Linked DNA regions of Homo sapiens: region 1 is linked to region 2. The links come from fine-mapping of genetic effects on gene expression. A gene starts in region 2. The other region holds a variant in brackets. All regions are shown on one strand. Distances are between the middles of the regions.

Region 1 (2,916 bases), 49 kb before region 2:
GAGAATCACTCGAACCCAGGAGGCGGTGGTTGCAGTGAGCCGAGATTGCATCACTGCACTCCAGTCTGGGCGACAAAGCGAGATTCCATCTCAAAAAAAAAAAAAAAAAAAAAAAGGCGAGAGAGTCTATAAAGTGAAAGCAAGTTTATTAAGAAGGTAAAGGAGTAAAGAATGGGGTACTCCATAGGCAGAGGAGCTGCTTGGGCTTGTCCACGAAGGATACCTACAGTTAGTTATTTCTTGATTTTATGCTAAACAATGTGTGATTATTCATAAGTTTTCAGGGAAAGGGGGACCCCTAAGGTTCCTCCCCTTTTTAGACCACATAGGGTAACTTCTTGATGTTGCCATGGCATTTTTAAACTGTCATGGTCTGGTGGGAGTGTCTTTTAGCATGCTAATGCATTATAATTAGCACATAATGAGCAGTGAGGACTAGCAGAAGTCACTCTCCTCTCCATCTTAGTTTTGGTGGGATTTGGCTGGCTTCCTTACTACAACCTGTTTTATCATCACGGTCTTTATGACCTGTATCTTGTGCCCACACCCTATCTCATCCTGTAACTTAGAATGCCTAACCTCCTGGGAATGCAACCCAGTAGGTCTCAGCCTCATTTACCCTCATTTTGCCCCTACTCCAGATGGAGTCACTCTGGTTCAAAAGTCTCTGACAGAACTGTAACAAGAAGTATAATTGTTACTCATTATTATAGCTGTTTGAGGATTAAATGGGATGATAGAAGTAAAGCCTGTAGTACTAAACCTGGTATATAATAAGAACCCATTTAATGTATTCATTTACTCAACAAATATTTATTAAGTAAATTTTTTTTTTTCTTGAGACAGGGTCTTGCCATGTCATTCAGGCTGGAGTGTGGTGGCATGATAGCTCACTGCAGCTTCAACTTCCTGGGCTCAAGTGTTTTTTTTGTTTTCATTTTTATTTATTTATTTATTTTGAGATGGAGTTTTGCTCTTGTCACCCAGGCTGGAATGCAATGGCATGATCTTGGCTCACTGCAACCTCCGCCTCCCAGGTTCGAGTGATTCTCCTGCCTCTGCCTCCCAAGTATCTGGGATTACAGGCGCCCAACACCATTCCTGGCCAATTTTTTTGTATTTTTAGTGGCGATGGGATTTCACCACGTTGGCCAGGCTGGTCTCGAACTCCTGACCTCAGGTATCTACCTGCCTTGGCCTCCCAAAGTGCTGGGATTACAGGCATGAGCCACCATTCCCGGCCTACTTACTATTTTTTTTTTTTTAAATGTTGGATGTATTTCATTCTGTGGTAGTTTCTTTTTTTTTTTTTTTTTTT[TTTTTTG/G]AGAGACAGGTCTCACCCTGTTGCCCTGGCTAGAGTGCAGTGGCATGATCACAGCTCACTGCAACTTCCGCCTCCTGAGATCAAGCAATTCTTCTACCACAGCCTCCCAAGTAGCTGAGACTACAGGCGCACACCATCACACCCATCTAATTGTTGTATTTTTTGGTAGAGATGGGGTTTCACTGTGTTGGTCAGGCTGGTCTTGAACTCCTGACCTCAAGTGATCCACCCACCTCGGTCTCCCAAAGTGCTGGGGTTACAGGCGTGAGCCACTGCACTCGACCAGTGGTATCATTTGTTTTGCCGCTCCCCTAATGCTGGATGTTTCCAGCTTTCTACTATTTTTTAAATGTTTCGATGAGAGTTGTTCTCTATGCATGTGCAAGTACTTGTCAGATTATTTCCTTATAATAAATTCCTAGAAGGTGGATTGCTACAAACAAGAAATGTATGTATTTTTGATACTTTTGATTTACATATTCAGAATAATATCCTGAAAGAACATACCAGTTTTCGTCTCACCAGCAGTAAATCTGAGTACTTACAGTTTTTAGTATACAGAGTTGATATATAATGTACCTTTAACTCTTAACAAATCCTGACAAAAAAAGGAGATTGTTCTGTTTATTTAAAAAAAAACTACTTAGTTTTTAACTTTTATCTTTTTCTAGGTTACAGTTCCTCTGAGTCATCTCATCAATGCCTTCCATACACCAAAAAACACTTCTGTTTCTCTCAGTGGAGTGTCAGTTTCTCAAAACCAGCATCGAGATGTAGTTCCTGAGCATGAGGCTCCCAGCAGTGAGGTAAGTCTTTATCCTGGTTGTGTGAGAAAGCCTTTTTGATATACAGTTGACCCTTAAACAAATGAAGGATTAAGGATATTGTCCCTCCCCCGTAGTCAAAAATTTGAGTATAATTTTTGACTCCTGAGAAACTTAACTACTAATACCCTACTATTGACCAGGAAGCCTTACCGATAAAATAAAGGGTCCATTAACATATATTTTGTATATTTTATGTATTGTGTACTGTATTCTTACAATAAAGTAAGATGGAGAAAATGTTATTAAGAAAATCATAAGGAAGAGAAAACATATTTACCATTCATTAAGTAGAAGTGGACCATCATAAAGATCTTCATTATCTTCAAGTTGAGTGGGCTGAGGAGGAAGAGGAGGGGTTGGTTTTTCTGTCTCTGGTGGCAGAGACCGGAGAAAGTCCACGTATCTGTGGATCTGTGCAGCTTTAATCTGTGTTGTTCAAGGATCACCTGAGGTCAGGAGTTCAAGACTAGCCTGACCAATATGGTGAAATCCCATCTCTACTAGAAATACAAAAATTAGCCGGGTGTGGTGGCGTGCGCCTGTAGTCCCAGCTACTCAGGAGGCTGAGACAAGAGAATAGCTTGAGCCTAGGAGGCAGAGGTCGCTGTGAGCCAAGATCGCACCACTGCACTCCAGCCTGGGTGACAACAAGACTCTGTCTCAAAAATAAATAAATAAATAAATATAAAAATGTAATCTCATTTTTTGGTTTAATCTAAAAAAAAACACCTGTTTTTACAGGGAAGTGGAATAGGTAGGGATTTA
Region 2 (2,916 bases):
GCCTCCCGAGTAGCTGGGACTACAGGCATGCACCACCACACCCAGCTAATTTTTGTATTTTTAGTAGAGACGGGGTTTCACCACGTTGGCCTGGTCTCGAACTCCTGACCTCAGGTAATCCACCCACCTCGGCCTCCTAAAGTGCTGGGACTTGACTAGCTTCATAGATCACCTTGGGGAGTGTTGAGGAGACAACATAACTTTCTAGCTGGGGTAGTGTAGGAGGAAAATTCTTGGTGACGATAGTGGAAACCACTCTCCCACATCAAAACCATTTGATCTAGCTAAGCTGGAGAGGCCTGAGAAGTGTTGTTTTGTTTTTGCTCATTTCTCACTTGGCAATAAAGACGCCTGTTCTGGGGCCAGCCACCTCCTCCACAAGGGACCCTAGAGCTGTCCAGAGCTATGGAGGTGCATTCCAGCAGCAATTTCTGCTGAGACTCCACTTGACGTCTGCGTTGCTAATTCCAATTTGTTGTCAAATTATTCAATCTAGGCTGGGCGTGGTGGTTCACACCTGTAATCCCAGCACTTTGGGAGGCTGAGATGGGAGCATCATTTGAGCCCTGGAGTCGGAGACCAGCCTGGGCAACATGGTGAGACCCTGTCTCTACAAAAAATGCAAAAATAGCCGGGCGTGGTGGCTTGCGTCTGTAGTCTCAGCTACTCACTCAGGAGGCTGAGGTGGGAGTATCGTTGAGCCCAGGAGGTGGAGACTGCAGTGAGCCGTGATTGCACCACTGCACTACAGTCTGGGCGACAAAGCGAGACTCTGTTGGGGAAAAAAAAAAAAAAAAGAAGAAAGAGATGTAACCTTGGAAAATCAAAAGCAAAAAATAAAACATAAGGCTGGGCCAAAGGCAGAGGGGTGGGGGAAGGAGGCATGCAGAAATGCGTTCTCATTTCTTCTGGAGAATGTGCATTGGTTTCTCCTCGTAAGTTTGCACTTGACACATATTGCCACGATCTCCGAAATCCTGTGCCCTCTGCACTTGACACATATGCCACGATCTCCGAAATCCTGTGCCCTCTGTTGTTGCATCTGTTAAGTTCTCATGGAGACCAGATGGCACCCAAAGGGACATGGAAGGGGAATAAACTGAGAGATAGGGAGATTCAGAGAGTTTCTTAGGGGAGTTTTCTCGGAGAAGAGGCTTTCAGCATCTTAAAACTCCACGCTACTCCAGTCCCAGTCATGCGTAAAGGCTGCTTCCCCACAGGCGCGAGGCTTCTTTTCGCAAACGTCCTGAACACTCAGCCAGACTCCCACCGACATTTGTTTGACAGGAACGCAGGGCTCGTCCCAGTCGCCGAGATTTGCGAGGTCTGGGCCTTGCACATGCGCATGGAGCACACTTGACCACTGGGCCTTCGTGCGCACGCGCGTGGACCTTGCCATCTGAGGTGCGCATGCGCACTTGTGTCTAGCGGGATCGCTTGCTTGGTAACCCGGAGGGAGAGATTGGAAACCGCGGAGTTTCCTTTGGGAGGCTGCGGCCAGCCGGGGCTGACTTGTTATGTTGGGCTCCGGAGGCCGTTAAGAGCCGAGAGAGACATGAGGTGTCTCTGAAGCCCGGTCGCCTGGGCCATGAAGAAGATTTTTAGTAAGAAGGGCGAGTCGCCCTTGGGCTCCTTCGCGCGGCGGCAGAGGAGCAGCGCGGGAGGCGGGGGCGAGCCGGGGGAGGGCGCCTACTCGCAGCCCGGCTACCACGTCCGAGACCGAGATCTCGGCAAGATCCACAAAGCTGCCAGCGCGGGTAATGTGGCGAAAGTGCAGCAGATCCTTTTGCTCAGGAAGAATGGCTTGAACGATAGAGACAAGATGAACAGGTAATAGGCGTCGCAAGCCCGGACTGAGTGCCACTGGAGTAGGCGGGCAGGAAGAGGGGCCCCTTTTGTGGGAGCCACCCAGGGCCTGGATCAGCCTCCCGCGGGCTCCGTAGCCCCTGGGACGGTGACACCTTGCAGGGCTCCAGCGCCCAGGCCGCCTTTCTGAGCAGAAAAACAAAAACAGAACTCTAGCTGGTTTCCGATCCCCCCGAAATCCCTTAGAGAGCACTTAAGTGACAATTTTAAAGTGAATTAACGAACAAAAGCACGTACAGCGTTTTATTTTTAATGTACACATTTAAGATACAATGTCATACACTTATGGAAAGGTGCATAATGAGATAAGCAGTTTCCATAATATAGCAACTTCTGGGTTAAAAATTATTTCTATAAAATCTGTTATTCGTCAGGCGCGGTGGCTCGCGCCTGTAATCACAGCACTTCGGGAGGCTGAGGCGGGAGGATTGCTTGAGGCCAGGAGTTCAAGGCCAGCCTGGGCATTATAGCGAGACCCCCCCCCCCAACTCTAATAGTCTCAGCTACTTGGAAGGCTGAGGCAGGAGCATCACTTGAGCCCAGGAGTTCTAGGCTGCAGTGAGGTATGTCAGTGACAACAGAGCAAGACCCTATCTTTCAAAAAGAAAAAGAAATAAAATGCCTTTAGGAAATAGATATACAAGTAATTTGTTTTTCTCAGCATTGCTTAAGCAGTGTATTAAGGAGAACCCATAGAATGGATTTTGTGAATAAATGTCAGTGCATGATAATATGTGACCATTGAAAGTGGCAGTAGAGGCCAGGCGTGGTGGCTCGCGCCTGTAAACCCAGCATTTTAGGAGACCAAGGCAAGCGGATATCCTGAGGTCAGAAGTTCGAGACCAGCTTGGCCAACATGGTGAAACCCCGTCTCTACTAAAAATACAAAAATTAGCTAGGCATGGTGGTGGGAGCCTGTAATCTCAGCTACTCCGAAGACTGAGGCAGGAGAATCGCTTGAACCTGGGAGGCAGAGGTTGCAGTGAGCCAAGATCGTGCCATTGCACTCCAGCCTGGGCAACAAGAGCAAAACTCTGTCTCAAAAAAAAG

Alleles and levels. Alleles are on the strand shown, and positions count from the first base shown. SD is a standard deviation of normalised expression in the study named.
For the expression in lymphoblastoid cells of the gene that starts at base 1,421 in region 2, allele TTTTTTG in region 1 goes with a lower level than allele G (moderate effect, 0.60 SD a copy in GEUVADIS).

The links. PIP is the estimated chance that this variant, and not a neighbour inherited with it, causes the effect. A credible set is the group of variants that fine-mapping cannot tell apart.
Region 1: its variant is the best candidate, but not a certain one, in a credible set for the expression of ANKRD26 in lymphoblastoid cells (GEUVADIS, PIP 0.51).

Annotation. Positions count from the first base shown.
Region 1 is chr10:27,148,120-27,151,035 of GRCh38, reverse strand. YME1L1 (YME1 like 1 ATPase) reads left to right here. Exons shown (of 19, transcript NM_014263.4): 2 at 1,996-2,130. Among named protein-coding and RNA genes, the nearest start is that of YME1L1, 4.8 kb to the left of the region's middle. The variant TTTTTTG/G (reference allele first, on the strand shown) is at 1,319.
Region 2 is chr10:27,098,999-27,101,914 of GRCh38, reverse strand. It overlaps ANKRD26 (ankyrin repeat domain containing 26), which reads left to right and starts at 1,421. Exons shown (of 34, transcript NM_014915.3): 1 at 1,421-1,830. The coding sequence starts at 1,589. RefSeq lists a silencer at 1,575-1,754 and an enhancer at 1,925-1,984.